Linked DNA regions of Homo sapiens. The protein of the gene in region 1 purifies or fractionates together with the protein of each later gene. This does not show direct contact. Each region holds a gene or a part of one and is shown in the gene's direction. Other genes may lie near its edges. The genes, in order: TRIM6, DEFB126, MYH6, FOXO3, ABCF1, HRNR and MYH7.

Region 1 (3,500 bases):
TTGTGATCCGCCTGCCTCAGCCTCCCAAAGTGCTGGGATTACAGGCTTGGGCCACCGCGCCCGGCCAACACAATTATTTTTTAACAGTAACACTTTGATAAGATAGCACATTTATTTCTATACTCTAGTGCCAACATCAAGGCCAACTATAAGCTCAGCAGTAAGCTATAATTTTCAATCCATTATAAAGTTAATTGATCATTTCCTGTGTTAGCTGCAGTGCTAAGGTCTGGGGCACCTGGAAGATAAATAGAGCCTCTATTGCCTCTAGAGCCTCTATTGCCTCTATTATCAAAGGCAATAGAGCCTTATAGTGCAGTGTGCTAAGTGAGATGATGTGGGTATGGTAGGAGATATTAACAAAGGAAATAATAGTGCAGTTCCCACAGGTGTGATTAATTTGGTTAAACAGACTCTCAGATGATAGGTAAATACGTCTGTAACACCAATTAGTACTACCAGTTAGATGCACAGAGTTCATTAATTTGTTAATTATATTTTGCACCCTTTATGGAGATGAGGAATATAAGGGAGTAATAAGAGCTCCAGCTCTGCAGCCTGCGTATCTGCATTCAACACCGGCCCCGCCACTTGAAAGATCTACTAAATACCAGTTTATACAACTATGAGATGAGATTTAAGGGACATTCATAATGTTGTTATGTGGAATTATTGAGTTATTATGTACAAAATAATTAAATTCTTGCTGAATACCTAATGGGCTTTCTGTAGATATTTGCTGTGAGCATCGCTGCTGCTAAGCATGGCAAAGCTGAAGAGCCAGGCTAGTACTTGCAGAAGCACCACAGAACACTAGATGGCAGCGCCAAGAACCTGTTTTCGGCTCGCTAGATCCCCCAGCAGGGCCGCTAGGAGGCTTATGCTTACATCCCATGACTTTTTCTTACCCTTATCTGAGACACTTTCTCAGGCCCTTTCTTCTAAGGGGAGTGTTGTTATTGGGAGGCAGTTTGATATACTTTTTAAATCCACCAGGTCCTCAAGATGGGGGTAAATTGGTACAATTTACAGGGCCTTGTGTTGAGGCCCACACGGACTGTTTTTTACATCAGTGTACATTTACTTTTGCTGGGAAACCAGCCAAAGACAAGTTAGAGAATTCTGCCTGCTCCCTACGCACTGTGGCCTGTTCAGAACAGCGAGGTCACGCCTGGAACCAGGGCCAGAGCTTCACATAGGCAGTGTTAGCTGGCTCTTCTTTGGTGGCCCAAACACAACTCCAGGTAGACAAGCAGAACAAATGGCTCCCAGTGAAAATAACTCAGTGCTGGAAACAGTTTTAAAAATTTTCTAAAGAGTATTCTCAGTGTGATTTTAAACAATGGTAACGTAATTTATCAACAACTCTTCCAAGAAAAATAGACAATAAAGGTCATATTTCTCAATGAAGATATAAGGTCTCAACTGCCTTACCGGCCACCTCTCCTTACATATGGACCCCCTTAGGATCCTGCTGAAGTTTAAGACAGGCCCTGGCAAAATCCCATCATCAAATAGGATCTCTCTCATTTCCATACTTCGAAAGCACTTGGTCCATGCCTGACTTTCACAGCCTTTACCACTGACTGTCTTTGGTCAAAGTTATGAGTTTGAGGACGAAGCTTTGAACTAGCACCCTGGAAAGGTTAGGTTATGCCAATTCTACAACTTACAAGGTGCATGATTGTGTAAAGTCACTTAATGTCTCTTCTTATTAAAGAATGGAGAATACTCTTATTTATGCAGAGTTGTCCATGAGGGATAAAGAAAGCAAGAGAATGTGATTTCTAAATCACAACTGGTTACAGAATCATGAGTTGTAAAAATATTACCTCCCCAGGCTGGGCGCAGTGGCTCACGCTTGTAATCCCAGCACTTTGGGAGGCCAAGGCAGGCAGATCACTTGAGGTCAGGAGTTCGAGATCAGCCTGGCCAACATGGTAAAACCCTGTCTCTACTAAAAATACAAAAATTAGCTGGGCATGGTGGCGCTCACCTGTAATCCCAGCTACTCAGGAGGCTGAGGCACGAGAATCGCTTGAACCCGGGAGGCAGAGGTTGCAGTGAGCCGAGATAGTGCCACTGCCCTCCAGCCTGGGCGATAGAGCAAGACTCAGTTTCAACAACAACAAAAAAATTACCACCCCTTATTGTGGCCATTGCTGTTTCTTTGGTTTTTTTCTGAGAAGGCGAGCATGTGGTGAGAGGGCTCTATGTGGAGCAGGGCCGTTAAGAAGTGGAAGTGTTTTCACAGTCTTAGAGATCAGATACCAGAGAGTGATGCAAAGGTGATGGCAGAGAGGTGAAAGAGCTCATGGAAAGGTCACAGATGATCACTGTAGAGGATGAGGGGGTTCTGACCCCCTCATTCATCCAAAGTTGAGGACCTATATGTCAGGCTCTATGCTAGCTGCCGAAGATACAACCATGAACAAAAAGTCTCAGATCTCATGGAGCTTACATTTCACTGCGAGGATTCAAACAAGTAAAGATCTGTATTAAGTGGTGTAAGAAGTAAAATAGACCGGGTGCAGTGGCTCATGCCTGTAGTCCCAACCCTTTGGGAGGCCAAGGCGGGCGGATCATGAGGTCAGGAGATCGAGACCATCCTGGCTAACACAGTGAAACCTCATCTCTACTAAAAAATACAAAAAAAATTAGCCGGACATAGTGGCAGGCACCTGTAATCCCAGCTACTCGGGAGGCTGAGGCAGGAGAATGGCTTGAACCCAGGAGGCGGAGCTTGCAGTGAGTCGAGATCACGCCACTGCACTCCAGCCTGGGCGACAGAGCAAGACCCCCTAATGAGGTGAATATGTGGAGAGTGATTGTATGGTGGCTGTGCTCTAAATAGACTAGTCAGAGCAGACCCTTCTGATAAGGGAATAGGTAGGAAGCTAGTAAGTCATGCAGATAGCAGAGTAAAGGGTCATCTTTACATCACGAACGACAAATGCAAAAATCCTGAGGCAGCAGTGTGTTTTAGGTGCTTTTAACATTGAGGATATGTTTTGGGTGAGAAAAGGTCACACAGTCTCCAGGTGCGGTGGCTCATGCCTGTAATTCCAGCACTGTGAGAGGCCAAGGCAGGAGCATCACTTAAGGTCAGGAGTTCAAGACCACCCTGGCTAACATGGTGAAACTCCATCTCTACTAAAAATACAAAAACTAGCCAGGTGTTGTGGCACGTGCCTGTAATCCCAGCTACTCAGGAGGCTGAGGCAGGAGAATTGCTTGAACCTGGGAGGCGGAGATTGCAGTGAGCTGAGATTGTACCACTGCATTCCAGCCTGGGTGACAGAGTGAGTCTCCATCTCAAAAAAGAAAAAAAAGAAAAGATCACACAGACAGTGACTCACACAGGCCCCTCCTTTCCAGGGCCTCAGTTTGTCTCTATTCAATAGGAGCAAGAGGAAATTATCACTGCTTTAATATGGGGAGAAATTGGTGCCTTGTATGAGCCGGGATAAAGAACGTATTGGATATGAGAATGAGAAGCC
Region 2 (4,045 bases), on another chromosome or scaffold:
ACATGCTATATTACTTCATTTATGTAATATTCAAGAGAATGCCAAGAAAGCTACAAGAACAAATAGCAGGTCAGTCGTTGCCTGGGTATCATGGAGGTAGAGGGAGGGAAGGGAAGAGGAAAGAGTGGATGCCAAAGAGGAATGAGAAACATTTTGAGAGTGAAGGATATATACATTATGTTGATTAAGGTAATGGTTTCACCAGTGCATCTTTTGCCAAGTTCATCAAATTATACACTCTAAATAATGCAGTTTAATGTACATCAATTATATCTCAATAATTTGGAATGAAAAAAAAAAACTCCTCACAAAGAACAAAACCTCTAGGACCTGATAGCTTTCAGTCACAATATAGTCAGGCACTCAAAAAAAAACTTTAACACAATAAAATTCTCTTTGAATGCCACCTTAAACTCAATCCCATCCAGAGAAAACAACTTTTATTAGAATGACATGTGATTTGCATTTTTAGTTCATGCATTTACTTATATACACATAAATATAGCTTTTTCACATAAATTAGAATCATTGCTATGCATGTTGTTCTAAAATGTTGCTTTTTCACTCAAAAAATGTTTAGTAAGATAAAATCTGCTGCACTCTTTTTAACAGAAGCACAGAATTAAATCATATGGATGCACTTCGTTTTATGCTACTCTACAGAGTGACAAGACTTCTTTGTGCATTTATCTTTGAGCACTTATTTATTTCTTTGTAAAAGGCTTTCTAAATTTCCAGATCATCAACAAAGCATTAATTTGGTCAGTTAAAAAACAATTGCTTATATCCTTCTCTGAAAAGAATGATGTACAGAAAAGAATTATATATATATATGAATAATACATCATAAGTGTTCAGAAAGACATTGTATTTTAGGTGGAGAGACAGGCAGGTGACCAGACTGCTACATGCAGTAAGATGAACCCTGATAGAACTAACACTGGAGGCTGTGAAAAAACTGCTAGGAGCACCCAGCCTTGGTAGAGCAGCATAATTTCTTCCTGTAATTCTTTCTCTCCAAATTGCCATACACTTCAGCAGAGTTTGCAACTTCTCTTCTAAGTCTTTATCCTTCCCCCAAGGCATGCCTAGCACAGGACTCTTGAACAGTGATGCCTCAATTAGAGTTGCTAGCCAATAGATTGAAGCTATGTTGGCACAATATCCTACATCCTCCCGATCTACTGGCTGAGCCCAACCCCACCTAAGAAGGACAATAAAGATCTGTGTTCAGAGTCATACTGAATAGAGACTTCTGGACTCTATAGAACCCACTGCCTCCTGATGAAGTCCCTACTGTTCACCCTTGCAGTTTTTATGCTCCTGGCCCAATTGGTCTCAGGTAAACAGAATCTTGGGGAAGAAGAAACACTGGCCTGGAACAGGGTCCTGCACATGGAGTCCCTGTTTCTAAGTGGTCTGTGGAAATGGGGTCTGGCTTCTCACTGGGAGCAGGGCTGAGATTTGTCCTACTTCTTCAGACCACCTCTGTTCTAAGAAACTTGAAGGCTCTCAGGATAGAGCAGGATCTGTGATCGGAGCTGGGGAGGAGGGTAAGGCAAATCCCATACAGTTGCCTCCAAAGGTAGAAATGATCTTGAAATCCCAAACTTCTATCCTGTCACTTCGGGTCAGTCCAGTCAAGCCCTGCCTCATTTCACTTTTGTTTTTTTTGCTGCCGATATTCCCTCCTGAGGTAACAATTATATAATATTACTTCCCCCAGTTTTCTTGGTCTTACAGAGAGGTCTCTGATTTTTTGTTTGTTTGTTTGTTCTTGGATGTGGTTAACAGAACAGGAAAGGCTGTTTCTATATATGTATAGGACTGTAAAATGGAAAATGAAAAAAAAAATTCTGTGTGGGAACTATTGGAAGTCTATATCAGATTTCAGCTCTGTTTGTGTAAGCATTTCTTATTTTTAATTTATTCTGTAGCTTATATTTACAAAACCAAGACAAGAACACTGAAAGTTATTTAGAAATAAATTGGCCACATTTCATCACTGCTTGCATTTTTTCACTTGTAACCAACTGATATATGAGCTTATAACCTGCTTTATTTTTTTACCTACGATTCTATCAGGAAAATTTTCACAGGTCTTGAATATTCCTTGAAAATACAATTTGCAGTAGATGCTTATAATTCTGTCATATTTTTGTACCAATATTAACTTGGAAAGTCCTTAATTGTGTGTCATTTGGATTATTTTTTCTAATGTGTGAGTACTGTAAATAACATTGTACAACCTTATTAATATATCATTGTGAGATTCTCTGTTTGTATAGGTAAATTTTAGAAGTTCCATTGCTTGGTACAAGGGTATTATTTCTTCTAAGTTAACTGGCACATATTGCCAATGGTTACTATTGGAGTATTTGTATTTTTAACATTTGTATTTCATATTTCTTGCAAATATTTTCAAACATATTGGTTGCTTCTAAAATGCATTATTTATTTGAGACACATAATTTTCATTTTCATGTCAAATCTATTGGTGTTTTCTTTGCATTCTTCCACTAACTTAGTAAGTCCTTCTCCGTGTTGAGAACAGTTATTCACCTATGATTTTGTTTTTTACACCGGACTCAATCCCACCTTTTTACATAAGGCACAATGAAATAAACTAATATTCTTTAGTATAATTTCCTAATGGGTTATATAATAACTCCATAGCCCGCCTCTAGAGATAGTAGTTTATATTCCCTAATTTGCAGAAATGTTCAAATTGATAGTGGATAAGAGGAAATTATAATGCTCTCATGGTTGTCTCAAAAGATGTTTCAGGCCTATTGCATCCTTGAAATTCTATGAGTTTAAATTGCCTGATTTCTCCCTCTGTCTCTGGAACATTAGTGACATACATCGACATACATCACATACTTGTATGTTGTCCTTTTTCTACACTTTGTGTGTGTGTATATATATTCTAACATATACATATATATAATGTTAAAAACTCAATCATCAGAGGAGGATTAAACAGCTGATAAGGGATAATAGTAGTGGTAATAGCATTCAAAAACGTTTGCTCTGTTCACTTACTGTCAATTACCTCATATTTCTTTCATTTATTGTACTTATCACAATCTGTAGTTATTTTGTTTATTCATTTACTTGTTTATTTTCTTTCTCCCCCTCTCCAATGTAAGGTCCTCAAATCATGTCTTTCTGTTCATTGTTTTATTCCCTGCATCTTGCAGAATTCTTGACATGGTAGGCACTCATCATATACTTGTTGATTAAGTACAGTAATGAGTTAAGCAAGGTAAGAAAGAGCTCCAGCGTCACTCTAGGGCCTCTATGTGTTAAACCATGTGATGAGATATTTTCATATGTATATAATATGTACACATATATAGGCAAACCCTGCAGAATGTCTCCCTAATGAATATATTCCTAATGGAATGGCTTTTTTTATTCTCAAAATTTTGTAAAATGTACTTATATCTCAATATCATATAGGTATATAGGTATAGATGAAAATTTTTTATTTATCTTTCCATAACTTGACATGACATTTTTAACCAGATAATATGTAAGATAAGCCTAGAGTTATCTTCTAAATATAATTTTTAGGATCTCAGAAACATGTAAGGGACATTTTGAAAATCTCACCAATTGGCAACAAAAGCCATATGTGTTTCAGTAATGGTGAGAAAGATGACAGCAATTATTTTAGCATTTCTTATTTTTGAAATGATAGTTTTTACTTCTGTTTAGGTGTTTGTGTTTTAGCTACATTTTAGGAAATTGCTTGGGGATTTTGTGTTCATGTATAACAACATGCTATATATTTTCCCATTTAAAATCATGGGGAATTGGCCCCTGGTAAGTGTTTGTATACAGAATTCTGATTTCAGAAATGAGAATCTCATACATATCTAAAGAATTCTATGTGTGTTTATAAAATTTCACTTAATCCTCAAAGTAGGTATTTATGATTAGGAAAAACATGCTAAAGCAACTGGAAAGGCACTTGAATAAACAGTGCTCAAAAACTATTGCTATTTTTTATCCTCCTGTGATAAATACTTAGGCTTAA
Region 3 (3,500 bases), on another chromosome or scaffold:
CTCTGCTGCTTGTAGGACCCATCCATGAACAGTCCATTAAAGCTGTCCATAACCCGAGGTGAAGGGATTTCCACTGAACCCCCGTTTTGCTCCTGGCTAGCCAGACAACAGATCAAAATGGTAGATACGATATTCTCCCAATTTAGTCAAGACCAAGGCTAAGGCCCAAAAAATGAGGTAAGGGCACTTAAAGAGGATAAGGAGATGAGGTGAAGAGGAGAGTAGCCTGCTAGCACTTTCCTGGCCTGGAAGGGAGCAATCATGTTGAAACCCAGCCCTGGGCATAAACACAGCAAGCCTGGGAGAGCAAGGAATATGGTTGATTGGACTTTGTGGTTAACTTGGAGAATTGCAAAGGTATCTGATTGTTTCGAGGCATGTTGTCACAAATATTTGTAAAATACAAGCACTCATTTTCCCGTCTTATGAATAGCGCAACAGAGCCTAGTGAATCTGGGGACTCTGAACTTCTTGATCTCACAGGATACCAGGATCCCCCTTCAACCACAGGTTCTCAGGATTTGGGGCTGCAGATGCTCACACTGGGTCTGAGATGCCCTTGGGAGCTTCAGCCAAATTCCTATTGATGGCCTATGCATTATAGGATGTTTAGTAGCATCCCTGGCCCCTACCCTCTAGATGCCAGTAGCAAGCCCCACCAAGACATGACAATCAGACATTGCCAACTGTTCCCTGGGGCACAAAATTGCCCCTAGTTGAGAACCACTGCTTGAGAGGAACCTAAGTTCCTGGTAGCTTTTCAGAGCCGGGGGGATTCCAGTGGAGGGGTCCAGGCGGTGGGTCTGAGCCCTTTGTGTCTGACCCAGGCACGCATCGAGGAGCTGGAGGAGGAGCTGGAGGCCGAGCGCACCGCCAGGGCTAAGGTGGAGAAGCTGCGCTCAGACCTGTCTCGGGAGCTGGAGGAGATCAGCGAGCGGCTGGAAGAGGCCGGCGGGGCCACGTCCGTGCAGATCGAGATGAACAAGAAGCGCGAGGCCGAGTTCCAGAAGATGCGGCGGGACCTGGAGGAGGCCACGCTGCAGCACGAGGCCACTGCCGCGGCCCTGCGCAAGAAGCACGCCGACAGCGTGGCCGAGCTGGGCGAGCAGATCGACAACCTGCAGCGGGTGAAGCAGAAGCTGGAGAAGGAGAAGAGCGAGTTCAAGCTGGAGCTGGATGACGTCACCTCCAACATGGAGCAGATCATCAAGGCCAAGGCAGGCTCTGCTCGGCCTCCCCTCGCCCTCTCCCCTGCACAGCGGAGCCTCCCCCATGCCTTCTCTCTCTGTCTGCCATCTCCCTTGTCATTCTCATTCTCTTCATCACCCTTTGGTCTCTCTTCCTGTCTCCCCTGCCCCTCTCTGGCTCTCCTCACCCTCTCTATCTCTTCATGTTCCTCCTTTCTTTAATTCAAGTCTCTCTTCAGACTGCGCCCTCCCACACCTTCTGTGTCCCCCTCCTGCCCTCTGGCATTCCCCATCTCTGACCCTCTCTTCCTTCCTCTGGTCGACTCAGCCCCTCCCACACTCACCCTTCCTGTCTTGCTTCCTGAAGGCAAACCTGGAGAAAGTGTCTCGGACGCTGGAGGACCAGGCCAATGAGTACCGCGTGAAGCTAGAAGAGGCCCAACGCTCCCTCAATGATTTCACCACCCAGCGAGCCAAGCTGCAGACCGAGAATGGTGGGTGCCCCTAACCAACCCCCTGCCTAGGGCAGGACATGACTTGTGAAATGGCCCACAAGCCCCTCATTTCACCTCCAGGAGAGTTGGCCCGGCAGCTAGAGGAAAAGGAGGCGCTAATCTCGCAGCTGACCCGGGGGAAGCTCTCTTATACCCAGCAAATGGAGGACCTCAAAAGGCAGCTGGAGGAGGAGGGCAAGGTGAGGCCCAGTGGGGAGGGTGGGCAGGCTTGATGGCAGCCCTGGGGCAATTCATCTCAGTGCCAGAAATGGAGCCTGGAGCTGGAAAGAGTCCTCTGCAAGGGAAAGACCCTCCAGTCTAGGTTCTGCCCTGCAGCTAAGCGTCATTTAATGCCTCTTTTCTTATTCGTAAGGGGATGGGGTGAGCAGACTGGGAAACTCCTCAAACAGTGAGGTGCCACATCAGCCCACATGGTGAATAAGGCTGGGCTTGGTTGAAGTACTACATAAGAAGAGAATCTAGAGAATGGGGCACAGGGAGTCCCTCCCACCTCCTGGTGCCCCCCCCCCTCCCCAGGCGAAGAACGCCCTGGCCCATGCACTGCAGTCGGCCCGGCATGACTGCGACCTGCTGCGGGAGCAGTACGAGGAGGAGACAGAGGCCAAGGCCGAGCTGCAGCGCGTCCTGTCCAAGGCCAACTCGGAGGTGGCCCAGTGGAGGACCAAGTATGAGACGGACGCCATTCAGCGGACTGAGGAGCTCGAAGAGGCCAAGTGAGCTCCAGATACCCCCTTAACCTGACTCTCAGAGAGGAAGGGGCGAGAGGACCTGGGGTGGGGACAGGCAAAGTGGTCATGAGACGGAAGTGGAAGAGACAGGAGGAACTCGGAGGGCAACAGAAGTGCTTGGAAGAAAGCCTGAACTCTTTGCTCTGTGAACTCTGGCTGGCCCTGACCCACTTCCTGTGACGGGCGAGCTTTTGGCCCGGGTTATACCTGATGCTCACGTATAAGACGAGCAAAAAGCTTGTTGGTCAGAGGAGCTACCGTCGATCAGCCTGTGTGGGGGGTGAGGGCAGGGGGCACTGACACCCAGATGCCACTGCAGGTAGGGAGGACGCCTGGGCAGCCCGTGCTGGCGGACTCTGTTCCAGGCATGAGCAGGCTCAGCTCCTGCTAGGCTGGACTTACGGTGTCTCAAGGAGATATAGGGAGGGGGTGGAAGGAGGTCCACCCAAGGCTCCAGTGTTGCCCAGTAGAGTCACACACACACCCTCCACCCTCACCTGGGCAGAAAGAAGCTGGCCCAGCGGCTGCAGGATGCCGAGGAGGCCGTGGAGGCTGTTAATGCCAAGTGCTCCTCACTGGAGAAGACCAAGCACCGGCTACAGAATGAGATAGAGGACTTGATGGTGGACGTAGAGCGCTCCAATGCTGCTGCTGCAGCCCTGGACAAGAAGCAGAGAAACTTTGACAAGGTGGACCATGGGCGGGGGCCGCAGCCAGCATGCAGGGCAAGGGGGCATGAGGGGTTCAGTGAGAGGCCAAAGGCAACCTCCTTGGAGGTGGAGGAGGAGGGCTAAGCCCAGGCTCGGGACCAGGGACAGATCTTGGACATGCGGCTGAGGCTGGGGGCTGGGGCACTGGGAAGCAGGAGGGCTGGGGAGCTAAGGCTGGGGGGCTGAAGAGTGAGCCTTGTCCCCGGGCAGATCCTGGCCGAGTGGAAGCAGAAGTATGAGGAGTCGCAGTCTGAGCTGGAGTCCTCACAGAAGGAGGCTCGCTCCCTCAGCACAGAGCTCTTCAAGCTCAAGAACGCCTACGAGGAGTCCCTGGAGCACCTAGAGACCTTCAAGCGGGAG
Region 4 (3,500 bases), on another chromosome or scaffold:
CTCCTTGTTTTAGCATGGAAAGTCCCATGTCCTAGGAAATCCCTCAGTCCGGAAGTCTAGAACAGAATCTTATCTGCACCTTGAACATCTAACTAAAAAGGACCCACCAAAACACCCCTAATATGGCTTTCTTTATCTCCCAAAGTGAATGATCCCATTCCCTTTGGGCTTTTCAACTTCAGAGCATTTTGTAATAAGGACAACATGAGAAATAAGGTAAGTAATCTTTGTGCTTTGTCCTTAGGATTTCAGACCTTTGAAACTGGTGTAGCAGAGCAGCTTTGCTGTGCTAGCCCTGGGCTCTGAGGTGGGTGAGGGAGATGGAAGGCCTTGACAGGTGGCCCTCAGGTGCCCACTATTGCTGTTGCAGTGCCCTTAATGATCTCTGGTTTTCTTTTCTCCTCCTTTAGACCCTCAAACTGACACAAGACCTACAGAGAAAACCCTTTGCCAAATCTGCTCTCAGCAAGTGGACAGTGATACCGTTTACAGCTTAACACCTTTGTGAATCCCACGCCATTTTCCTAACCCAGCAGAGACTGTTAATGGCCCCTTACCCTGGGTGAAGCACTTACCCTTGGAACAGAACTCTAAAAAGTATGCAAAATCTTCCTTGTACAGGGTGGTGAGCCGCCTGCCAGTGGAGGACAGCACCCCTCAGCACCACCCACCCTCATTCAGAGCACACCGTGAGCCCCCGTCGGCCATTCTGTGGTGTTTTAATATTGCGATGGTTTATGGGACGTTTTAAGTGTTGTTCTTGTGTTTGTTTTCCTTTGACTTTCTGAGTTTTTCACATGCATTAACTTGCGGTATTTTTCTGTTAAAATGTTAACCGTCCTTCCCCTAGCAAATTTAAAAACAGAAAGAAAATGTTGTACCAGTTACCATTCCGGGTTCGAGCATCACAAGCTTTTGAGCGCATGGAACTCCATAAACTAACAAATTACATAAACTAAAGGGGGATTTTCTTTCTTCTTTTGTTTGGTAGAAAATTATCCTTTTCTAAAAACTGAACAATGGCACAATTGTTTGCTATGTGCACCCGTCCAGGACAGAACCGTGCATAGGCAAAAGGAGTGGAGCACAGCGTCCGGCCCAGTGTGTTTCCGGTTCTGAGTCAGGGTGATCTGTGGACGGGACCCCAGCACCAAGTCTACGGGTGCCAGATCAGTAGGGCCTGTGATTTCCTGTCAGTGTCCTCAGCTAATGTGAACAGTGTTGGTCTGCTGGTTAGAAACTAGAATATTGATATTTTCAGGAAAGAAATCAGCTCAGCTCTCCACTCATTGCCAAATGTCACTAAAGGGTTTAGTTTTAAGGAGAAAGAAAAGGAAAAAAAAAAAAAACAAAAAAGTCCTGTTTTGCTTTGCAGAACAAATGAACTTACAGGTGAGCATTAAGCTTGCAGTGAGAAATGTGCGAAGAGTAAAAACCCAAGTCAATGCTGAGGCAGTTCTAACTTCACTGTTTTCCTAAATACACATCCTTGATTATTTTCAGCCTTGCTATATAATCTGATCTGCTAGAAGTGTATGAGTGAGAGGCAATAGCATACAAACTGATTTTTTAAATATAAGCTTAGGTTGTAATTGTACAAGTGACTCAATGGAAGTACAAAATAGGGCAGTTTTAACTTTTTTTTCTGCTTCTATGGATTTCATTTTGTTGTGTTTTCAAAAAGTTATGGTGCTGTATAGGTGCTTTCTGTTTAACCTGGAAAGTGTGATTATATTCGTTACCTTCTTTGGTAGACGGAATAGTTGGGACCACCTTTGGTACATAAGAAATTGGTATAACGATGCTCTGATTAGCACAGTATATGCATACTTCTCCAAAGTGATATATGAAGACTCTTTTCTTTGCATAAAAAGCATTAGGCATATAAATGTATAAATATATTTTATCATGTACAGTACAAAAATGGAACCTTATGCATGGGCCTTAGGAATACAGGCTAGTATTTCAGCACAGACTTCCCTGCTTGAGTTCTTGCTGATGCTTGCACCGTGACAGTGGGCACCAACACAGACGTGCCACCCAACCCCCTGCACACACCACCGGCCACCAGGGGCCCCCTTGTGCGCCTTGGCTTTATAACTCCTCTGGGGGTGATATTGGTGGTGATCACAGCTCCTAGCATAATGAGAGTTCCATTTGGTATTGTCACACGTCTCCTGCCTCGCTTGGGTTGCCATGTTTGAGCGATGGCCCTGTTGATTTCACCCTGCCTTTTACTGAATCTGTAAATTGTTGTGCAATTGTGGTTATAGTAGACTGTAGCACATTGCCTTTTCTAAACTGCTACATGTTTATAATCTTCATTTTTAAAGTATGTGTAATTTTTTTAAGTATGTATTCTATTCATATGGTCTGCTTGTCAGTGAGCCAGACTTGCTTACTATATTCCTTTATAATAATGCTAGCCACTTCCTGGATTCTTTAGTAATGTGCTGTATGCAAGAACTTTCCAGTAGCAGTGAAGGAGGGTTGCCTCTCCAAGCTTCCTAAGGGATGCTGCCCTGTGTGGGGATGCATTGCAGAGGCACTAGTAGCATGGGGGCTAGAGTGGGGAGCGAGATGTAAAAGGGTGGGGGGATAGGAGAATTCCAGAGTGCTTCCAGCATTAGGGTCCTGAGAACTTCTGAGTTCAGAGAAACATGCAAAGTGACTAACAAAATAGCTACTTACCTTTGCAGTTTTACAGACCCTGGGAGCTGCTTTGGGAGTGAGAAAGGCAACCCTCCAATGTGTTTCAACTTTAAAATGTTGAATTCTTTTCAGACATGGTATCTCATTTATTCTCCTTTTCTAGCGTTTGTTGAATTTCAGGCAGAATGTCTTACAGAATGTCCTAGAACCAGATTATCATTTAATCTGAAACAGCTGAGGAAGGGACAGAGAAGGTACAAGGGCAAGGCAGCACAAAACAGATCAGGAGAATGAAGAGGGAATGCTTTGGTTTTTTGTTTTGTTTTGTTTTTTCTTTTTCAAGTAACTAAAACAGCATCTACATGTAGAGTGTTGTGGAGAGCTGAGACCAGGGTAAAGTCAAGTGCAGCATCAGTACTGCGAGACCCACCAGCCCCTGGAGAGGGTCAGCCGAGAATCTGGTAGTGAAGCCTGTCTAGGGTCCCGGCACCCTCACCCTCAGCCACCTGCAGAGAGGCCAGGGCCCCAGAGACTAGCCTGGTTCTGAAGTGGGCAGGGGTGCTGCCAGAGCCCTCTGCCCCTTATGTTGAGACCCTGCTTTCAGGACAGGCCAGCCGTTGGCCACCATGTCACATTCTGAGTGAGTGTCACAGGTCCCTAACAATAATTTTCTGATCTGGAGCATATCAGCAGAATGCTTAGCCTCAAGGGGCCTGGCAGCTGTAATGTTTGATTTATGATGAGAACTATCCGAGGCCACCCTTGGCCTCTAAATAAGCTGCTCTAGGGAGCCGCCTACTTTTTGATGAGAAATTAGAAGAGTACCTAATGTTGAAAACATGACATGC
Region 5 (3,500 bases), on another chromosome or scaffold:
TGGGAGGCATCTGGGTTCCACCAACCCCTTTCCAGCCCATGTTGCTCCATTCAGCTGATGGGGAACCCTCTGTGAGGCAGAAATACAGCAGGGGCCTGGGCTTCATTTTCTCACTGTTCTTTTGCTCTCAGCAGCAAAAAAAAAAGCGAGATACCCGAAAAGGCAGGCGGAAGAAGGATGTGGATGATGATGGAGAAGAGAAAGAGCTCATGGAGCGTCTTAAGAAGCTCTCAGTGCCAACCAGTGATGAGGAGGATGAAGGTAAATGACCTGAGGGGGAATGGGTACCTGGAATCCATGAGTCATGGAGAGTGATACCTCATACCCTGATCTTCAAGTTGGATTCAATTGGGGGGCCAGACATTGTAATTCTTTCCTATCTCATGTTCTCCCCCTGTCATTTCAGTACCCGCCCCAAAACCCCGCGGAGGGAAGAAAACCAAGGTAAGCCATCTGTGTGGTAAACGGAGACTCCAAGGATGCAACCTTGACCATCCTACTGACTTCTGTGGCCCTTTCATTCTCTAGGGTGGTAATGTTTTTGCAGCCCTGATTCAGGATCAGAGTGAGGAAGAGGAGGAGGAAGAAAAACATCCTCCTAAGCCTGCCAAGCCGGAGAAGAATCGGATCAATAAGGTGACAGTGGTGGCTCGATCAGTCACTCTCACTCCATTTAGCACCTTCTGGCCATGGTGGAGTAATTTCCCGCTTTTAAACTAGCTCTTCTCGGTCTGTCTTACTTATACTGTTAAAATCATCTTTTTAGAATACATGCCCAGGCTGGGCACAGTGGGTCACGCCTGTAATCCCAGCACTTTGGGAGGCCGAGGTGGGCGAATCACGAGGTCAAGAGATCGAGACCAGCCTGACCAACATGGCGAAACCTCATCTCTACTAAAAATACAAAAATTAGCCAGGCGTGGTGGCGTGCGCCTGTAATCCCAGCTACTTGGAAGGCTGAGGCAGGAGAATCACTTGAACTTGGGAGGTGGAATTTGCAGTGAGCTGAGATTGAGGCACTGCACTCCAGCCTGGGCAACAGAGCAAGACTCAGTCTCAAAAAAAAAACAACAAAAAAAACCATGCCATTTTTATCACTCAGAAATCTACAGTGATTCTGTTGCTTTAAGCACAGAACCTGAAACAAAGCCCCAGGTCCTTGCTCTTCTACTTGTGACTCTTCTGCGTGTGCATCTTAGTCCATGTCCATTTGAGCTCTTGAGAAAGCCTCCAGTGCTAGTGCCACTCACTCTGGTGGCGCACTTGCCTGACTTATAATCCTTAGCCTTGCTGACGTTCCCTAGTTATCTCTTCGCTATCTAGTCTGAAGCTGGAGGGTAGGGTTTTTCTGGGTCTCATTTTTCGTCAGCAGCACTCAATACAGATGGTCTCCAACTTCTGCTTCGGTGTACGATTTTTCTACTTTATGATGGTGTGAAAGTCATACTCATTTAGGGTACTCCTCAACTCATGATGGGATTATATCCAGATAAACCCATCATAAGTTGGAACTATTTTTTTTTTTTTTTTTTTTTGAGACGGAGTCTCACTCTGTTGCCAGGCTGGAGTGCAGTGGCGTAATCCTGGCTCACTGCAACCTCCGCCTCCCGGGTTCAAGTGATTCTCCTGCCTCAGCTTCCTGAGTAGCTGAGATTACAGGCACGTGCCACCACGCCCAGCTAATTTTTGTGTTTTTAGTAGAGACAGGGTTTCACCATGTTGACCAGGATGGTCTCGATCTCTTGACCTTGTGATCCACCTGCCTTGGCCTCCCAAAGTGCTGGGATTACAGGTGTGAGCCACCACGCCCGGCCAAGAACTATCATTTTTTATTTAAGTTTCTGGTGGGTTTATCGGGATGCAACCTGTCGTAAATGGAGGAGCATGTGTATGGTTAACACAGTAGACTCTCTAGAAATGCTTATTACACAGCAAAGTAGCACAATAATTTGTATGTATGTGTGTAATGTGTATGTGTGTCTCCTCCAGGCCGTATCTGAGGAACAGCAGCCTGCACTCAAGGGCAAAAAGGGAAAGGAAGAGAAGTCAAAAGGGAAGGCTAAGGTGAGAGAGTAACTAGCAGGAGGAGGTATTGGGGCCCAGGAATTAAAACATTTCATCAGGGCTGGGCGCGGTGGCTCACGCCTGTAATCCCAGCACTTTGGGAGGCCGAGGTGGGCGGATCACGAGGTCAGGAGATCGAGACCATCCTGGTAACACGGTAAAACCCCGTCTCTACTAAAAATACAAAAAAAATTAGCCGGGCGTGGTGGCGGGCGCCTGTAGTCCCAGCTACTCGGGAGGCTGAGGCAGGAGAATGGCGTGAACCCGGGAGGTGGAGCTTGCAGTGAGCCGAGATTGCGCCACTGCACTCCAGCCTGGGTGACAGAGCGAGACTCCGTCTCAAAAAAAAAAAAAGAAAAAAAAAAAAAACATTTCATCAGACCTGTCTTTTCCCTATTAGCCTCAAAATAAATTCGCTGCTCTGGACAATGAAGAGGAGGATAAAGAAGAAGAAATTATAAAGGAAAAGGAGCCTCCCAAACAAGGGAAGGAGAAGGCCAAGAAGGCAGAGCAGGTGTGTATTTGGTGTTGGGGCAAGGTGGAATGAGGGACTAGGGCTTCCAGGGTCCTTATGGGAGAGTTAGAATCTGGGGATATAGTTATTATCCCAGCAAACCTTTATTCTTTTCTTTTTTTGGGGGAGTAGTTGGGGTGGTGGTTCGTTTGTTTTTGTTTTTGTTTTTGTTTACACAGGATCTTACTCTGTCACTCAGGCTGGAGTGCAGTGGTGTGAACACGGCTCACTGAAGCCTCAACCTCCTGGGCTCAACAGATTCTCCTGCCTCAGCCTACTGAGTAGCTGGGACTACAAGTGTGCACCACTACCCCTGGCTAATTTTTTTATTTTTAGTATAGAGATGAGGTCTCACTATGTTGCTCAGGCTGGTCTTGAATTTCTGGGCTCAAGCAGTCCTCCTGCCTCAGCCTCCCAAAATGCTGGGTTTACAGGTGTGAGCCAGCATGCCAGCCAGCAAACTTTTTCTATAAAGGGCCATATAGTAAATGTTTTTGGCTTTGCAGGCCACATACAATCTCTATCACATATTCTTTTTTTTTTTTAACAACTCTTTGAAAATACAAAAATTATTTTTATAAAGTTCAGGAGCTATATAAAAATAAATGTCAGGTCAGCCTTGGCCCATGGGCTGTAGTTTGCAACACCTAATCCAGTGAAGAAAGGGCCTGGAATTTATCTCAGATGATCTGGGTCCTGGCTCTGCCTTCACTGGCTGTGTGACCTTGAATACATCTTCCCATCCCCTTGGGTCTCACTTGTCTCCTTTGTGTGATAGAAGGAGGAGTCCGGAGATCTCTAGGGTCCCTATGCGTCTGGCACTTCCTAATTCTGTGATTCTGCTGGATTCCTCTGACTGTGCACTAGAGCTTCCTGATCTTTTTTTTTTTTTTTTTTTTTTTGAGATGGAGTCTCACTCCGT
Region 6 (3,500 bases), on another chromosome or scaffold:
GCATGGTTCTACATCAGGACAGTCATCAACCTTTGACCAGGAGGGATCTAGCACAGGCCAGTCTTCCAGCTATGGCCACCGTGGCTCTGGCTCCAGTCAGTCTTCTGGCTATGGCCGACATGGGGCTGGATCTGGCCAGTCTCCTAGTCGCGGCCGACATGGGTCCGGTTCTGGGCACTCTTCCAGCTACGGCCAACATGGGTCTGGCTCCGGTTGGTCTTCCAGCAGTGGCCGACATGGGTCTGGCTCAGGTCAGTCTTCTGGATTTGGTCACCACGAGTCTAGCTCATGGCAGTCCTCTGGTTGCACTCAGCATGGATCTGGCTCAGGTCACTCCTCCAGCTACGAACAACACGGCTCTAGGTCAGGACAGTCATCTAGGGGTGAACGACACGGATCTAGCTCAGGTTCATCTTCCAGCTATGGTCAGCATGGGTCTGGCTCCCGTCAGTCTTTGGGCCACGGCCAACATGGGTCTGGATCTGGCCAGTCTCCTAGCCCTAGCCGTGGCCGACATGGGTCTGGTTCTGGGCAGTCTTCCAGCTACAGCCCATATGGGTCTGGCTCAGGGTGGTCTTCCAGCCGTGGCCCATATGAGTCTGGCTCCAGTCACTCTTCTGGCTTAGGTCACCGAGAGTCTCGCTCAGGACAGTCCTCTGGCTACGGTCAACATGGATCTAGCTCAGGTCATTCCTCTACCCATGGGCAACATGGTTCTACATCAGGACAGTCATCGAGCTGTGGCCAACATGGAGCTAGCTCAGGTCAGTCTTCCAGCCACGGTCAGCATGGCTCTGGCTCAAGTCAGTCTTCTGGCTATGGCCGACAGGGCTCTGGATCTGGCCAGTCTCCAGGCCACGGCCAGCGTGGGTCTGGGTCAAGGCAGTCTCCCAGCTACGGCCGACATGGGTCTGGCTCCGGTCGGTCTTCCAGCAGTGGCCAACATGGGTCTGGCTTAGGCGAGTCTTCTGGCTTTGGTCACCACGAGTCTAGCTCAGGGCAGTCCTCTAGTTACAGTCAGCATGGGTCTGGCTCAGGTCACTCCTCTGGCTACGGACAACACGGCTCTAGATCAGGACAGTCATCTAGGGGTGAACGACACGGATCTAGCTCACGTTCGTCTTCCCGCTATGGTCAGCATGGGTCTGGCTCCCGTCAGTCTTCGGGCCACGGCCGACAAGGGTCTGGATCTGGCCAGTCCCCTAGCCGCGGCCGACATGGGTCCGGTTTGGGGCACTCCTCCAGCCACGGCCAACATGGGTCTGGCTCAGGTCGTTCTTCCAGCCGTGGCCCATATGAGTCTCGCTCGGGTCACTCTTCTGTCTTTGGTCAACATGAGTCTGGCTCAGGACATTCCTCTGCTTACAGTCAGCATGGTAGTGGCTCAGGGCACTTCTGTAGCCAAGGACAGCATGGTTCTACATCAGGACAGTCATCAACCTTTGACCAGGAGGGATCTAGCACAGGTCAGTCTTCCAGCCACGGTCAGCATGGCTCTGGCTCAAGTCAGTCTTCTAGCTATGGCCAACAGGGCTCTGGATCTGGCCAGTCTCCTAGTCGCGGCCGACATGGGTCCGGTTCCGGGCACTCTTCCAGCTACGGCCAACATGGGTCTGGCTCCGGTTGGTCTTCCAGCAGTGGCCGACATGGGTCTGGCTCAGGTCAGTCTTCTGGATTTGGTCACCATGAGTCTAGCTCATGGCAGTCCTCTGGTTACACTCAGCATGGATCTGGCTCAGGTCACTCCTCCAGCTACGAACAACACGGCTCTAGGTCAGGACAGTCATCTAGGGGTGAACAACACGGATCTAGCTCAGGTTCATCTTCCAGCTATGGTCAGCATGGGTCTGGCTCCCGTCAGTCTTTGGGCCACGGCCAACATGGGTCTGGATCTGGCCAGTCTCCTAGCCCTAGCCGTGGCCGACATGGGTCTGGTTCTGGGCAGTCTTCCAGCTACGGCCCATATGGGTCTGGCTCAGGGTGGTCTTCCAGCCGTGGCCCATATGAGTCTGGCTCCGGTCACTCTTCTGGCTTAGGTCACCGAGAGTCTCGCTCAGGACAGTCCTCTGGCTACGGTCAACATGGATCTAGCTCAGGTCATTCCTCTACCCATGGGCAACATGGTTCTGCATCAGGACAGTCATCGAGCTGTGGCCAACATGGAGCTAGCTCAGGTCAGTCTTCCAGCCACGGTCAGCATGGCTCTGGCTCAAGTCAGTCTTCTGGCTATGGCCGACAGGGCTCTGGATCTGGCCAGTCTCCAGGCCACGGCCAGCGTGGGTCTGGGTCAAGGCAGTCTCCCAGCTATGGCCGACATGGGTCTGGCTCCGGTCGGTCTTCCAGCAGTGGCCAACATGGGCCTGGCTTAGGCGAGTCTTCTGGCTTTGGTCACCACGAGTCTAGCTCAGGGCAGTCCTCTAGTTACAGTCAGCATGGGTCTGGCTCAGGTCACTCCTCTGGCTACGGACAACACGGCTCTAGATCAGGACAGTCATCTAGGGGTGAACGACACGGATCTAGCTCAGGTTCGTCTTCCCGCTATGGTCAGCATGGGTCTGGCTCCCGTCAGTCTTCGGGCCACGGCCGACAAGGGTCTGGATCTGGCCATTCCCCTAGCCGCGGCCGACATGGGTCCGGTTCGGGGCACTCCTCCAGCCACGGCCAACATGGGTCTGGCTCAGGTCGTTCTTCCAGCCGTGGCCCATATGAGTCTCGCTCGGGTCACTCTTCTGTCTTTGGTCAACATGAGTCTGGCTCAGGACATTCCTCTGCTTACAGTCAGCATGGTAGTGGCTCAGGGCACTTCTGTAGCCAAGGACAGCATGGTTCTACATCAGGACAGTCATCAACCTTTGACCAGGAGGGATCTAGCACAGGTCAGTCTTCCAGCCACGGTCAGCATGGCTCTGGCTCAAGTCAGTCTTCTAGCTATGGCCAACAGGGCTCTGGATCTGGCCAGTCTCCTAGTCGCGGCCGACATGGGTCCGGTTCCGGGCACTCTTCCAGCTACGGCCAACATGGGTCTGGCTCCGGTTGGTCTTCCAGCAGTGGCCGACATGGGTCTGGCTCAGGTCAGTCTTCTGGATTTGGTCACCACGAGTCTAGCTCATGGCAGTCCTCTGGTTACACTCAGCATGGATCTGGCTCAGGTCACTCCTCCAGCTACGAACAACACGGCTCTAGGTCAGGACAGTCATCTAGGGGTGAACGACACGGATCTAGCTCAGGTTCATCTTCCAGCTATGGTCAGCATGGGTCTGGCTCCCGTCAGTCTTTGGGCCACGGCCAACATGGGTCTGGATCTGGCCAGTCTCCTAGCCCTAGCCGTGGCCGACATGGGTCTGGTTCTGGGCAGTCTTCCAGCTACAGCCCATATGGGTCTGGCTCAGGGTGGTCTTCCAGCCGTGGCCCATATGAGTCTGGCTCCGGTCACTCTTCTGGCTTAGGTCACCGAGAGTCTCGCTCAGGACAGTCCTCTGGCTACGGTCAACATGGATCTA
Region 7 (3,500 bases), on another chromosome or scaffold:
CTGCCCTTCCTCCTCCCCAGCCCATAACAGTACAAGCAGACCCAAGACAGCCATCCTCTGAGGCAACAACCTCACGCAGCCTCCACAAGTGGAGGCGCAAACCATGGGAAAAGGCCTCCCAGGCAAGGGCTTTCCTCCCCTAGTCCCAGATATCAGGGTTAGTTAGATGGTCCTCCCTGGCAAAAAGTCCATTGTATCCCATGAGTCCTTTCTTCTTGTTAGGCACTCAGTGGGAATGAAAATAACAGCCTTCCCCCTTCATACACATCTCTCTTTGGAGACCAGTTCCTTGACATGGAGGAAGGCTCCACATGAGAGCCTCTTAGGAAAGTCCCTTTGTGGCTTTTCACAGAGAGCCCACAGGGCACCAAGAAATGCCCTCACATTAAAGAAGTCAGGGGATCAGGGCCATTTCTTTGTTTTGCTTAACTTGTGGTTCCAATTCTTAGTGTAAGTTCTTCCAAAATGTATAGACTTTCCAGACTTGGTAAACAGTGAGCTTGCAGAACATATTTTGATAATTGAAGGTCTTATGGTGTTTCAGGCTCAGGACTTTGAAAGGCTTTGAGAATCATCATAATCTACATCCTCATCAAGTTTGTGTTTGCACAGGAATCTTCATACCTTCCCAGGCACAGAATGTGTTGAATAAATGAATAAATACACGATCCTATTTGATTCTCAAAACACCTTTTAAGGATGGTATCTTTAATTTCACTTTACCAAAGAGGAAAATAAGTTTCAGAAAGGTTAGCTGAGTTACCCAAAGCAATAGTGACAAAATTAAAGACCATCAGAGCTAAAAAGGACCTTTGAAACAATCTAGTCCGACCCCCTCATTTTACATTATGAGAAAACAAGGACCAAAGATGGGAATGTCCTGTAGAGCCCAGGCCCCATCACCCTGTCTACAGCACTCCTCCCATTACATTCTTGTTGGATTTCAATCTCACCGCAGGTGTTACACTTCCAGGGATCCTACATCACCCCCAGAAGCTGTTTTTCTAATGAAATCCTACTCTTTACCTGTATCATTACCATTTTCAACCACTGGTGGACCCTCCTGAGGCCCCACGAGTCTCCCTTACCTCACCATCCCTCCTTCCCCACAGAAAAGACTTTGAGCTGAATGCTCTCAACGCAAGGATTGAGGATGAACAGGCCCTCGGCAGCCAGCTGCAGAAGAAGCTCAAGGAGCTTCAGGTGAGGTCTGGACACCCACGCGGGATGCTGAGTCCCTGGGCTGGTTCTGTTTCCCCTGCCCCCTCCTCTAGGGTGTCCTGTTCACAGCATTACAGGAACTGATTATGTGTCCATGGAGGCAGGCACGCAGCTATCACAGTGTGCCCATGGATACATCCAAAAGGGGTCAGGTGATCCACAGAGACCCTGAAAAGGTCACAGGCCTGGAGGGCAGAATTCCTGGCTTCCTGTCTCAGCTCTGCCTTAGTTGGGTGACCTCTGGGAGCCCACTCCAGATCTCTGGGTCTCCATGCCCTCCCCTGTTACATGGAGGTTTTTAAGAGTCCTTCGACTCTGATGGCATGACTTTCCTCCTTACTCTAGAGCAGAAGCTGTGTTAGGTCTTTAGTTGTCTGGTCAGACAAATACGGCTCTCTCATTTTCAACTTTTGTTATTTTTTTATGACTAAACTGCTTAAAATATCCCCAGAACACAGGTCTCTTTGTCCATCTTTAAGAGCAAGTTTCAACCACTTTCCTTCCAATAAAGAGCATGTAGACTGTCAGGCCCTCGCCTAAAGGAAGGCTCTTCAAACTATCTTCCCCAAATCCTTTAATTCCCACCTCTCCACTGGAAGAGCTAAACTGACTTGCTGTTCCAGAGAAGCCGAGAGCCTTTTAGAGCCGGGGGGATTCCAGTGGAGGGGTCCAGGCGGTGGGTCTGAGCCCTTTGTGTCTGACCAGGCACGCATCGAGGAGCTGGAGGAGGAGCTGGAGGCCGAGCGCACCGCCAGGGCTAAGGTGGAGAAGCTGCGCTCAGACCTGTCTCGGGAGCTGGAGGAGATCAGCGAGCGGCTGGAAGAGGCCGGCGGGGCCACGTCCGTGCAGATCGAGATGAACAAGAAGCGCGAGGCCGAGTTCCAGAAGATGCGGCGGGACCTGGAGGAGGCCACGCTGCAGCACGAGGCCACTGCCGCGGCCCTGCGCAAGAAGCACGCCGACAGCGTGGCCGAGCTGGGCGAGCAGATCGACAACCTGCAGCGGGTGAAGCAGAAGCTGGAGAAGGAGAAGAGCGAGTTCAAGCTGGAGCTGGATGACGTCACCTCCAACATGGAGCAGATCATCAAGGCCAAGGCAGGCTCTGCTCGGCCTCCCCTCCTCCAACTTCCTCCTCCCACCTCCCCTTTCTGTCCATGTAGTGTCTCTTCCTTCATGGTTCATTTTCCCACTTCCCTTCCTCTGCCTGGTTCTCAGATCCCCTCCTTCTTTTCACACCTTCCCTCTTCTTTTCTCCTTCAGTTGCACCTCTTACACCCCTTCATTCCCCCCGCCCCCAACATCCATCATATAACTCTCCTTCCCTTCTCAGGCTAACCTGGAGAAGATGTGCCGGACCTTGGAAGACCAGATGAATGAGCACCGGAGCAAGGCGGAGGAGACCCAGCGTTCTGTCAACGACCTCACCAGCCAGCGGGCCAAGTTGCAAACCGAGAATGGTGAGCCTAGAGCAGGGGCTCCATGGTTCCCACCACAGTCTCCCCAACCTCCTGAGCCACTCCAGCCTCGGGCACAAGCCAATACACGCACACACAGACACAGAGTCTCTCCAGAAAATGGGGCCTGAGGGCTAGAGGAGGAGGTGGGGATAGAGAGGAGTGCTGATCTAGAATGGTGCTTCCCCAGGTGAGCTGTCCCGGCAGCTGGATGAGAAGGAGGCACTGATCTCCCAGCTGACCCGAGGCAAGCTCACCTACACCCAGCAGCTGGAGGACCTCAAGAGGCAGCTGGAGGAGGAGGTTAAGGTAAGGGCTAGACTCGGGCCACCTGGCCCAAGCAAGGAGCACACTGACTAGCCTTGCATCAAATCACTTCCCTTCCCAGCAATAAGGCTGGCTGTGGACCAACAGTTCTCCAAGAATTCTAAAAAGAAATCACAGCCCAAACCCTGCCACATGCCATCTACTCCCCAGGCTGAGGCCCTCTGCTTCTGCTGCATCCCTGGACGGGAGGCAGGGTGTGAGAAGGAGGAGAGAAAATGAACTAGGGAGGCACGAGATGGCCTTGCCCGGGCACGGCTAGGGGATGTAGGGACTGCACAAATGGGTCCTGGGATTTGCAGGGCCACCTGAAAACTGGAGAAAGAAATTCAACTGGAGCCTATTCCTAGCACTTTGCTGGACTCATGAAAAAGGAGAAAGAACATGATTTTTAAAAAACTCCAGGGTTCATACTAACCTGCCTCTTATAGCTCAGTGATCTTAGGTTAGGGAAGTCCCCTAACCTTTCTGAGCCTGTTTCCCTCTCCCCAGCCAGGTAAA

What was found.
Region 2: the proteins of TRIM6 (region 1) and DEFB126 purify together in Homo sapiens (affinity purification with mass spectrometry, with the first as the bait; one large-scale study listed by BioGRID). This does not show direct contact.
Region 3: the proteins of TRIM6 (region 1) and MYH6 purify together in Homo sapiens (affinity purification with mass spectrometry, with the first as the bait; one large-scale study listed by BioGRID). This does not show direct contact.
Region 4: the proteins of TRIM6 (region 1) and FOXO3 purify together in Homo sapiens (affinity purification with western blotting; one study listed by BioGRID). This does not show direct contact.
Region 5: the proteins of TRIM6 (region 1) and ABCF1 purify together in Homo sapiens (affinity purification with mass spectrometry, with the first as the bait; one large-scale study listed by BioGRID). This does not show direct contact.
Region 6: the proteins of TRIM6 (region 1) and HRNR purify together in Homo sapiens (affinity purification with mass spectrometry, with the first as the bait; one large-scale study listed by BioGRID). This does not show direct contact.
Region 7: the proteins of TRIM6 (region 1) and MYH7 purify together in Homo sapiens (affinity purification with mass spectrometry, with the first as the bait; one large-scale study listed by BioGRID). This does not show direct contact.

What each region holds. Positions count from the first base shown.
Region 1 is NC_000011.10:5,599,637-5,603,136, forward strand, and holds part of TRIM6 (tripartite motif-containing protein 6), read left to right. Parts: intron 1-3,500.
Region 2 is NC_000020.11:141,345-145,389, forward strand, and holds the start of DEFB126 (beta-defensin 126 isoform 1 preproprotein), read left to right. Parts: upstream 1-1,245; 5' UTR 1,246-1,284; coding exon 1,285-1,342; intron 1,343-4,045.
Region 3 is NC_000014.9:23,387,774-23,391,273, reverse strand, and holds part of MYH6 (myosin-6), read left to right. Parts: intron 1-827; coding exon 828-1,217; intron 1,218-1,554; coding exon 1,555-1,681; intron 1,682-1,762; coding exon 1,763-1,881; intron 1,882-2,218; coding exon 2,219-2,415; intron 2,416-2,607; exon of another isoform or gene 2,608-2,678; intron 2,679-2,935; coding exon 2,936-3,119; intron 3,120-3,350; coding exon 3,351-3,500. UniProt on the Homo sapiens protein: Muscle contraction.
Region 4 is NC_000006.12:108,679,417-108,682,916, forward strand, and holds part of FOXO3 (forkhead box protein O3), read left to right. Parts: intron 1-410; coding exon of another isoform or gene 411-497; 3' UTR 498-3,500. UniProt on the Homo sapiens protein: Transcriptional activator that recognizes and binds to the DNA sequence 5'-[AG]TAAA[TC]A-3' and regulates different processes, such as apoptosis and autophagy.
Region 5 is NC_000006.12:30,577,942-30,581,441, forward strand, and holds part of ABCF1 (ATP-binding cassette sub-family F member 1), read left to right. Parts: intron 1-134; coding exon 135-261; intron 262-406; coding exon 407-444; intron 445-528; coding exon 529-636; intron 637-1,989; coding exon 1,990-2,064; intron 2,065-2,464; coding exon 2,465-2,578; intron 2,579-3,500. UniProt on the Homo sapiens protein: Isoform 2 is required for efficient Cap- and IRES-mediated mRNA translation initiation. Isoform 2 is not involved in the ribosome biogenesis.
Region 6 is NC_000001.11:152,214,194-152,217,693, reverse strand, and holds part of HRNR (hornerin), read left to right. Parts: coding exon 1-3,500. UniProt on the Homo sapiens protein: Component of the epidermal cornified cell envelopes.
Region 7 is NC_000014.9:23,418,661-23,422,160, reverse strand, and holds part of MYH7 (myosin-7), read left to right. Parts: intron 1-1,112; coding exon 1,113-1,203; intron 1,204-1,926; coding exon 1,927-2,316; intron 2,317-2,551; coding exon 2,552-2,678; intron 2,679-2,865; coding exon 2,866-2,984; intron 2,985-3,500. UniProt on the Homo sapiens protein: Myosins are actin-based motor molecules with ATPase activity essential for muscle contraction. Forms regular bipolar thick filaments that, together with actin thin filaments, constitute the fundamental contractile unit of skeletal and cardiac muscle.